2 separate regions of the Homo sapiens genome follow, and region 2 is linked to region 1. The links come from fine-mapping of genetic effects on gene expression. Tissue or cell type: whole blood. Region 1 holds a variant in brackets; the other region holds the start of a gene. All regions are shown on one strand. Distances are from middle to middle.

Region 1 (5,390 bases):
GAGTGCAGTGCTGTGACCAGGGCTCACTGCAGCCTCAACCTCCTGGGCTGAATCAATCCTCCTGCCTCAGCTGCCTGAGTAGCTGGGACCACAGGTACATACCACCATGCCTGGCTCGTATTGTTTTTTTAGAAATGGGGTCTCATCATGTTGCCCAGGCTGTTCTCACACTCCTAGGCTCAAGTGATCCTCTTGCCTGGGCCTCCCAAAGTACTGGGATTACAGATGTGAGCCACTGCGCCCAGCCTTGTTATTTTTAACTCCATGGTCATTACTTACTTTCCAGTAATGTCAAAAGTCTAGGATAACATAATAGATTATTATGTGGGTTAGCTGGAAGGAGGGTAATGTATACTGTACCACAATCTTGTGCCTTGAAAGTCAACTACCACAGGATCAGTGACTGAAAAACAGGAGGCTTAGATACCCCACTCCCAGATATGGAAATTGTCTGACATCCTCTTCGTTGTCCTTTCTTTTTACTCCCCTTCAGTTTACCTTTACTTGCCTTTATCTTAAGGGACACAATCCCTTCTTTACCAGCAGGTAGAGGTTTCCTTGGTTTTGACCCTTTGTGTTATGTTCACTGTCATTCTCTCTCCCTAAGAAACCCAGCTAAGGGCCCAGCCCTCATTAAGCCAGGCTCACAAAGATCCAGACAAGTCTCCTAAAAGGCAGATGACCGTGGTAGGAGCCATCAGAAGAAGAGAAACTACAGAGACAATGTCAGAGAAAATACCCATTCAGCAGAAAGAAAGACTCCTAACTTTATAAAAATAAATCATTTTGAATTATATACATAGGCTTACTTTCCCAAAGCAACAAACCTACTTAACAACACTTTTTGGACAAACTGTTAGTCATCTTGGAAAATGAAAGCAATGGATATATTTAGTGCATTTGGGCTCTAATATACATTATCAATCACTTGCAAGTTACAGCTCTTCTTAAACTGTGTTTGCTTTTCTATTTTTCAGTTCTAAGGCAGCATCATTATTCTACTATTATTTGAACCCAGGTTATTTTTCAGAAGGAGGAGGAATGTAATAATTTCCTATACATATATTGTTCTGAAAGGTAGCAAGACAAGTTTCAGTGAGGCAGAGCCACCCCAGGTGTTCATTAAAATCACCTGGCAGCATGGTGGGACACAGTGTTAATAGAACTCAGTATTAATGGGACAAGTGTTAGCGGCTCTGTGGCGCAAGTGTTAATACTGATTGCAAATTGTGCTTGATGATATACATAGGAACCTCTGGATCCTTCACTTACAAATAGCATGAAATGGTGGATGAAAAGTAATGCCCTAAAACACAGGACAGTTTCTAAAGAAAAGAAACATTTTCCTTGTTCAAACTAGAATTTAACTCTCGGCTGTTCTGTGGTTAAGATCTACAACGTAGAAACATTTCAACAGTAACTAACACATGTGGCGCTTTGTGTGTAGCAGCCACTGTTCTAAGTATTTTGCATAAACTCATTTAATACTCAACCCCTACAATGCCAACAGACAGCTAACAGAATTGTTCCCATTTCTCGTATAAAGAAACTGAGGCTCAGAGTTAAATGATTTGCCCAATACCAAATAGGTAGTAAAAGGATAAACCAAAATTTGGATGACATACTTTGGCTAGAGTCCATACCTCTAACCACTGGAAATTGTGTGTCTTTTTATTATTATTATTATTATTATTATTATTATTATTATTATTATTATTATTACAAGCATCAGTATTTTTTATGAATACTCATTTCACAATGGCATTGATTTAAAAAAAATCCTACACCTACATTTGCAATGGTTCAATCTTTCTAATAACCTAAATCAGTTAATTAAGACAAATTGTCGACTGAGTTAGTGAACATATTCAAGCTAGCTAGGGGTGTAGATAACTTCTAAATAGAGGATACACTGTAATGACTAGTTATTCCATACCTAGATTCTGTGCAGATAATTCTGCTCCTTGAAAGCAGAGATTACTATCTTTATATTCTGAGCACCTAGCATAGTGTAAACAGTCAATAAATGTGTTGAATGAGGATGGAGGGTAAATAAATCACACTACATGAAGGAAATATCTGTTGGCATTGAGAGGGAAAAAAACTGACGAGGGAGGAGGATGGGGAACTAAAGGTGACTGTGAGCTCTTTGCTGCCTTTGCTCCAGTGTTCCAGGGCTTCCTTACTTTTTGCAAAGCTCCAGGATCTGTATCCTTGCTGTGCTTGAACAGAGTTCAGGCAGCAGGGCAAGGGGCAGGGAGAGCAAAGTGGGAAGTCAGAAATCAGAGCAGCCCCGCAGCAGGGAAACTGCAGTGGTTGAGAGTCACAACCCCACCCTCCTGGGAGCACTGGCAGGAGTGAGGTGCCCAGGAAGCAGACAGAGGGGGAGGCAGCCAGTAAGGGGGCCT[C/T]CACCTACTTTTCAAAGAATCAAGAAGTCACACTGAAAGAAAAAAGGATTTAGCCTCCTCTTACACAAGGTCTTCTGTCTTCCTTTGAAAATGACTTTAGAAAAGAAAAGACAAGGTTGAAAAGGAACACAAAAGAAAGTCAGACTCCTGCCTAGAGAGTTAAAAACATGTTGGAAGAGCCAGTATAAATCAGCAGCTAATGCCAGTGCCTTTGGAAAGGACCCACTACCAGGGGTTCTGGAGGCTGGCCTGGTGACACTGTTTATTATACCCAGAAAAAAAATTCTTGGAAGTAAGGGCATAAATTGAAAGGCAACTCAATGACCCTCCTTCCCTCTGCTTTCCATATTCATACCTTTCCATTTTTCTGGAATACAGTAACATCTCCATGTCAAGCCAAAATGCCATCTCTTCCATGAAGCATTTCCGGATCACCAGAAGGATACTTTCTCTACATAGCTCTTAGATGTCACTTGTATAGTATATTCACTTACTCAACAGACACATATTGAATGTCTGCTATGTGCTAGGTATCTTTCTAGACACTAGGGATACAACAATTAAAAAAAAAAAAAAAGGCCTAGCACGGTGGCTCACACCTGTAATCCCAGCACTTTGGGAGGCTGAGGCGGGTGGATCATCTGAAGTCAGGAGTTCGAGACCAGCCTGGACAACATAGTGAAACCTTGCCTCTACTACAAATACAAAAATTAGCCAGGCATGGTGGCTTATGCCTGTAATCCCAGCTACTCGGGAGGCTGAGACAGAAGAATTGCTTGAACCCAGGAGGCGAAGGTTGCAGTGAGCTGAGATCGCACCATGGCACTCCAGCCTGAGTGACAGAGAGGGATTCCATCTCAAACAAACAAGCAAACGAAAAAACCAAGATGCAAATTCCTACATTTAGGGAACTTACGTTCTACTATAGTATATTGCACATTAAATTGGAGTTGTTGGCCGGGCAGGGTGGCTCACGCCTGTAATCCCAGCACTTTGGGATGCTGAGACAGGTGGATTGCTTGAGCATAGGAGTTCAAGACCAGCCTGGGCAAAATGGTAAAACACTGTCTCCACCAAAAACACAAAATTTAGCAGGGTGTGGTAGCATGTGCCTGTAGTTCCAGCTACTCAGGAGGCTGAGGTGGGAGGATCACTTGAGCCCAGAAGGGCAAGGTTGTAGTGAGCTGAGATGGCACTAATGCACACCAGCCTGGGCAACAGAATAAGACCCTGTCTCAAAAGAAAAAGAAAAAGAAAAAAGAAAGAAAGAAAAATAAAGTGAGTTATTGAAGTCTCCAACTATTATTGTTGAATTGTCTGTTTCTCCCTTCATTTCTGTCAGTTTTTGTTTCAAATATTTCAGTGACTCATATATTCAAATTGTTTTCAAAGGGATCTAAAAAAAGTGTGTCATGAGGTATTTCTTAAATTCCTGCTCATTTTTAACAAAATATAACAATTAGTAAAAGTAAAATAGATCAAGTATTTCCTCATTTGACTTTAATTTGCCAAAAAATAATGTGTAGTGATGAAAGCTACAACATAATTAATAAATTAGTAAATAGTAACCACACTATTCAGAATAACACTGCTCAATATAGAGAGTGGGTGAACAATACACTATTCCTTATACCAGGAAACTCCTAAAAAAGAGACTTGAGTTATAGGTTAGCTATTTCCTCATGGCAGACAAAACAGTTTCCATTATCCAGCTCATCTTTCCGCCCTTTCTCCCTCTTCTCACTCCTTTTCTCTTCTATTTAGCAAATATTTATTTTCTCATAAGCCTCAGAAAATCCTATCTGAAAGCAGGTATAAATTGAAAGCAGGTATAAAACATTCTTTGTAATTTGATTCCTTACTCACTGTATTAGTCTGTTCTCACGCTGCTAATAAAGGCATATCCGAGACTGGGTAATTTATAAAGGAAAGAAGTTTAATGGACTCACAGTTCTACATGCCTGGGGAGGCCTCACAATTATGGCAGAAGATGAAGGAGTAGCAAAGTCACATCTTACATGGCAGCAGGCAAGAGAGCTTGTGCAGGGGAACACCTCTTTATAAAACCATCAGATCATCTGGGCACGGTGGCTGACGCCAGTAATCCCAGCACTTTTGGAGGCCAAGGTGGGAGGATCACCTGAGGTCAGGAGTTCGAGGCCAGCCGGGCCAACATGGTGAAACACCATCTCTACTAAAAATACAAAAATTAGCTGGGGGTGGTGGCAGGCACCTGTAATCCCAGCTACTCAGGAGGCTGAGGCAGGAGAATTGCTTGAATCCAGAAGGCAGAGGTTGCAGTGAGCCAAGATCTCACCACTGCACTCCAGCCTGGGTGACAGAGTGAGACTCCATATCAAAACAAACAAACAAACAAACAAACAAAGCATCCGATCTCCTGAGACAGCAAGGGAAAGACCCGCCCCCATGATTCAATTACCTCCCACTGGGTCCCTCCCATGACATGTGGGAATTATGGGTGCTACAATTTAACATGAGATTTGTGTGGAGACACAGCCAAACCATATCACTCACCCTAATCAATCAACATTTCCTAAGTAGAATCACCTATGCTGAGCATTATGCCACCCTTCTTCCAAGTGAACCAAATCTGGCCCTGTTCTGCCAACAAATCCTAGTCTGAAGCCAGAGCCATTTTCTAAATCTCATATTTCCTGCCTAAGTATGGGGGAGTCATGGGCTTAGCTATAAAAATTCCTAAGACTAGGGTGGTATGAGTGAATGCAGGCTGGGCATAGCAGAAATGTAGCTCTGGCATCATAATTTCAGAATCAGTGACATCCTTAGAACGAAGTGCCCCCATCAATCTAACAAAGGAAACAAAACCCCAGCTTAATGTTTGCTTTAAGTTGCCATGATTTTCCTACAGACTCAGTGCTGCAAGTCAATCTTTACAAGTGTTTTTTCAGCCTGGGGGCAAGAAAATAAACAAGACCCCAAGAAGTGTTAGGAAAGGAGAAG
Region 2 (5,390 bases), 72 kb after region 1:
TCGCCATCCTTTTCATCCAAAGCCAGAGTCATTTTCTCTTTCACATTAAAATCTCATTTCTAGTGCTCCATGATATTAAATTTATAAAAATGAGTATAAAATATTTTAAATTTATCATGTACCTACATTAAAAGGACAATTGCAGGAAGAGCACTCTGATCTCCCACTTTCAAAAGAGTGATCATTTAGTTAAAACAACTTCCTATGAAATAATGTAAGATAACATATAAATGGCTACCTTTAACAATTCTAACTGAATCAAAACTGAAAAGATTTTTTCTTGATTTCTGAAACAGACTGAAATTTAAGATATTAGGTATGACTGCAGTTTCATTTAAAAACCAAGAGAGGAGTTTAATCATGTATCTGACTATCACAACTTACCTTCATTATGGGAGTGCATTATAATTGGTTTGATTACTGGACTTGTCAATTATACAGTCAATACCAATCAATGAAAATTAATCACTTAAGATACCATGGCATAAATAAAAATTCTCTTTTTACAAATAATTATCACAATTTTAAGATTATTCTTCCATATGTGGAAATAAATCCTGCAGATACTGAAATAATTTGGAATATTAAAGAAACTAAGATTTGCTAGATTAAAATTAAGGGGTAAGAAGGATGATTATTACTATTATTAAAAGTACATTAAATTATATGTAAATATACTCTAACACAACATCCCAACACTCAACCATGATCCCTAACATACAGAACTGACTCAGTGCTTTCTGAGTAAATACTAGAGTATCCAGTAAATAATAAAACCTTACAATAATATTCTGAAATAAGTATTAGGTTAAATGAGATGCTACTTTTATCTTGAACTTATTTTGATTCATTTGAATAAATTCTTATAGAAAAAAACATTTGGGAACTGTTTCTAGAAAACTACAGAGTGAAAATATTCAGTATTTAAAGACAAGCCTACTGTTTAAAATTTTTCCTGGTATTATTATTATTATAATAACTGCAAACTATTGTTCTATGTCATGTCAATAAGCACTTAAGGAGCAATTAGATGTGAAGGTTTTGTTTTTTTTTTCCTAAGTAAATCTAATAAGTGCCATTTCTCTTTACTCCACTAGAGGGTAGTCTCTCAAAACTGGGGTTGGAGTCATGACTAGCCTGCTTTTGACCTGTTGATATATTAATCCTCATGTTCCATTCTCCTCAACAAGATGTTTCTCTAGTATACTAATTAAGGTTGTAAAACATGCATTTTTAAAACTGCTTTTTGATTTTTCATGTATGTTCTTTCAGAAATATGCACTGCTATGTGTTTCTGTGTTTTCCAAATTTCTGGTAATTAATAAAAATGTTTTACATGTATGGCTTATATAGTATATTTTCCTGGGAAATATCCTTTCAGAGTTAATAGGCCTAAGAATAAAGATAGTCTTTTAAATAATTTAACTTATTACAATCGAAATATTTCCCCAGAGTGGTAAAAAATACATCCTAAATACACACACACACTCACAGATACACAAACACACCTACACATGTACCCATTCATATGTAGCTCCTAGATTTATTACATCATATAAAGAGAAGTCAGTGAGTATAATTAGAAATACATATTTTTAAAAAGTACCCCCTCAAATGCCAATGTTGTGAATTACAGAGAGGCAAATATATGCTTTATTTTAAAAATCTGGTCAATCCAGACAAGAAATGTCATTGCTAAAAAAAAAAAAAAAAAAGTGTTATTGAACACCAAGCACATATGCTAAATTAAGTAGGATCTATAGAGAACCAAATGCCACTCAAAACAGTTGCAAGCTTCTCTTCTTAAATAATGCAGTCATTGCTGAACTTCAGAGACGGAGTTGGAGGTTTGAGTCTCTACCAGGTGTTTTTAATATTTAGGAAATCCTTATCAGTAGTGTGTCCTCTCTATTTGCAGACTGAAAACATATTTCTCTGAATGACTGATAACCTAAAATTGAGAAAACTTGTCAAAAATTCCCAACATTCCCTCAGAAAGGAAAAAAAAGAAGGAAAATGATACCTAGGAAAACATGCAAGCCTGTTTCATTTATTTGTATCCTAAGCAGCAGTGTCATAGAACAGACAGTTTGTTTCAGCCAACCAGACTGGAGCAGCTGCGAGTGCTACATCTTGGCTGTCTGAAGCGATTGGCTCCTCTCTGGGGAGTGGAGGGTGTTCAGTTATTAATGACCGCTGAGCAGGCAGCACCATGTCAGTGTGACAACTGATCGGGTGAACGATGCACCACTAACCACCATGGAAACAAGGAAAAATAAAGCCAGCTCACAGGATCTCTCTTCACTGGATTGAGAGCCTCAGCCTGCCGACTGAGAAAAAGAGTTCCAGGAAAAAGAAGGAATCCCGGCTGCAGCCTCCTGCCTTCCTTTATATTTTAAAATAGAGAGATAAGATTGCGTGCATGTGTGCATATCTATAGTATATATTTTGTACACTTTGTTACACAGACACACAAATGCACCTATTTATACCGGGCAAGAACACAACCATGTGATTATCTCAACCAAGGAACTGAGGAATCCAGCACGCAAGGACATCGGAGGTGGGCTAGCACTGAAACTGCTTTTCAAGGTAAGTTTAAAATACACATATATTTTAAAATACGTTCTATTTCTTGTCTCTTCGATGATCATGTTTTTACACCTAAATCCTCCTTTGATGTCTTCTTCTTGTCTGAATTCTAAGAGCATTTTTCTTTTATTGCACTTTTGAGAAGAAATTCACATGCAAAACCCAGCTGGCTCTGTGTGTGCCTAGCTGTGTTTGTGAGATTCTCCAACATGCATTTTACTAGCTTGAATGCCCATTAGAGGATGTGAGTGGGAGAGAAAAAGCAGTGTTGGGGGGAGGAGAAAAAGGAGGGAGACAGAAGAGAAGGGAACAGTGGGGGAGAAGAGAGGAGGAGAGGGAGAGAGAAGGAGATGGGGAAGAGAGAAGACAGAGAGGAGACAGAGAGGAGAGGAGAGTCACGGGTGATGGGGTGCAATTTTCCTTTTTCTTCACATTATTTGTAGTGAAAAGCAGATCACACATTATTCTCTGTTTTGAAATCAACCCACCAAATGGGGCATTTTTATTTTGTCTCATCCAGTGGATGCAAATTAAGGCAAATGCTGTTGTATGTTAAGAGCTAAACCACTAAGCAGAGTAGCAGAATGAGCATATCACAAACAGTTATTGAATTTCTGCCAGGCTACATCTTACGGACTGGGGTAAATGACTTCCCTTTAATAACATCCCCTCGCTGGTCTGAAGGGACAGTGCAAATGTCTGATTGCTAATGCAGCTGGAACTGCCACACACTAGGTGAAAGGATCCCATGAACCAGAAGAGTTCTAATCTTTGGTAATTAACAGGATCACAGCAGGATGGCTTTAAAGTACATTTCCTATTTAAGAAAATTGTTTGTTCTAACCAACTGCTATATTCCCTTTGCTGTTGTTGAGCTGGATGGCTTAATTCGGCTCTAATTTATTCATTTTTAACAATATGTCCTTGTTTCTCTGCCTCTAATTTCAGTGAAAGCAGGCTATGAATATGAGTAGAACCGTCCTAATTTAGTGAAAAGGGGATAATGTGAAAACAAAAATAGAAGTAAAGGTTCAAAATATCTACCTAGAAAATAGTGTGCTCTGGTACCATAAATATTACTGATATATTTCTCATCTTTAGTTTCAGAAGCAATGCCTTTGAGACAGAATTACTCTCAGTAAACTCTATGAGCATCCATGTATTGATGATTCATGGAATTCAGTGTGGGTTAATTTTTACTTCCAATCTTGTAAAGGGAAGCCAGCTACTTAGAATATGCTTTCAAACAGACAACACCAATTGAGGATATTCATGGAAACATTCACTGCCCTCTTTACTGGGTCCTGGAAAGACAGTAAAAGAAACCTAGCATTTGTATTTCATCTTCTGGAGCTCTCTCCTGCCTTCTTTTAGTTCAACTAACCACACAGTTAACAGAGTCAGCTTCTTTGAAACTGTGGGTTATTTTTTTCCACAACTGTGATTTCAGAGCTATTATTGGTTTCCTAGTTTGTAATATAAGCCAAAGCAAAAAGACAATAACCAGCCACTTAGATCCTGCCACTTTCCCATAAATGTGTCAAAAAAATGAGTCAGTTTACAACATGTAATATAAGAAGTCAATTAATTCCAGTGACCTTTGTAAATGATGACAATAAAGCAGCTCTGACAATATGCCAGTGGCTTCGATTTTCTCTCTGTAAGATGAACAAGTTTAAGAAGAGGGTTCCTGCTCAGAGAAAAATGAAAGGTGCTGAAGCATCAGCTTGCAATATTGGCAGCTTTGCTCGCTCTGCCTCAAATGCCACATGCAATCTATAAAAAAAACCAAAATGATTTATTACAAAAAGGAAAAAGTGTTTTATTTGCTTTTCTGCTATTTATTAAAAGTGCTGCTTTTGAAACAGACCAGATCTGATATTTTGAGGTACCTCCTAAGTTCCTAACCAAGAGGAAAAGACTTGAAGTAGATACTCAACCCTCTGATTTCAAACTCCTATATAATGTAGCATTGCAGTATTTAATTCAGTTTTTCTTAGACCTTTTCCAGGGAAAGTTTGCATGCCAGACACACATTCTTAAATCTAACCCGCCTTATTTTAAAATTGCAATAGATGACACCTAAGAACAGTGGATTCACTCTTTAACCTTAGTAAAGCTCACATACATATTTTGTGGATTACAGAGATCAGTAATGTGCCCACTTCAGTCTGAGAAATACCAACACTCCAGGCCCCCGGTGTTGCCACTCAGTGTGTGCCAGTGAGTTTGGTGATTTGATCAGCACCTACGAATGCCAGATGATGGACATTTGTGTATGACTGGAAGATTTACCCATAGTCTCCCCAAATCATGTAACTATACCAGAAATAGCACCTTCCTGGCAAGACAATTCAAAGGACCATTTTTTTCAGGGTGTCGCTTGTCACAGGCAACATGCTGAGTTAGAATGCTGATGAGTAGGTGGAATTTTTTATTTGGAGGTGGTGGTTGTTGTTGTTAATGGCTTAATAAACGGTGCTACCAGCCTTCCAGGCCAGCAATTTAGTGACCTACAAAAAAGGTGATCAACTTATGATGCACTAACTATATTTCACTGTTTCTTTGTTCTTTCCTTTTTTGTAACATCTTTTGCTTTCGCCATGTGATGGGTTTGATGTTTCACTCCTCCCCCCGAATCTGAATTTTTTTGGGGTGTAACATTCCTGTGTAACATGGCACTATGGTATTTATTACAATCTAAGTTGATCAGAAAGCTCTATAACCGGAGTTTCGTTTTAAAAAAACACTTATGTAAGTTAAATGTTATTACTTAATTAGCAGCCCCTGAAAATGGG

Evidence for each region. PIP is the estimated chance that this variant, and not a neighbour inherited with it, causes the effect.
Region 2: LRRN3 starts here. The variant in region 1 is fine-mapped to the expression of LRRN3 in whole blood (TOPMed, PIP above 0.99).

What each region holds. Positions count from the first base shown.
Region 1 is chr7:111,017,117-111,022,506 of GRCh38, forward strand. All of the region lies in intron 3 of IMMP2L (inner mitochondrial membrane peptidase subunit 2), which reads right to left. Among named protein-coding and RNA genes, the nearest start is that of LRRN3, 71 kb to the right of the region's middle. The variant C/T (reference allele first, on the strand shown) is at 2,409.
Region 2 is chr7:111,088,913-111,094,302 of GRCh38, forward strand. It overlaps LRRN3 (leucine rich repeat neuronal 3), which reads left to right and starts at 2,215. Exons shown (of 3, transcript NM_001099658.2): 1 at 2,215-2,592. The region is part of intron 3 of IMMP2L (inner mitochondrial membrane peptidase subunit 2); the gene reads right to left.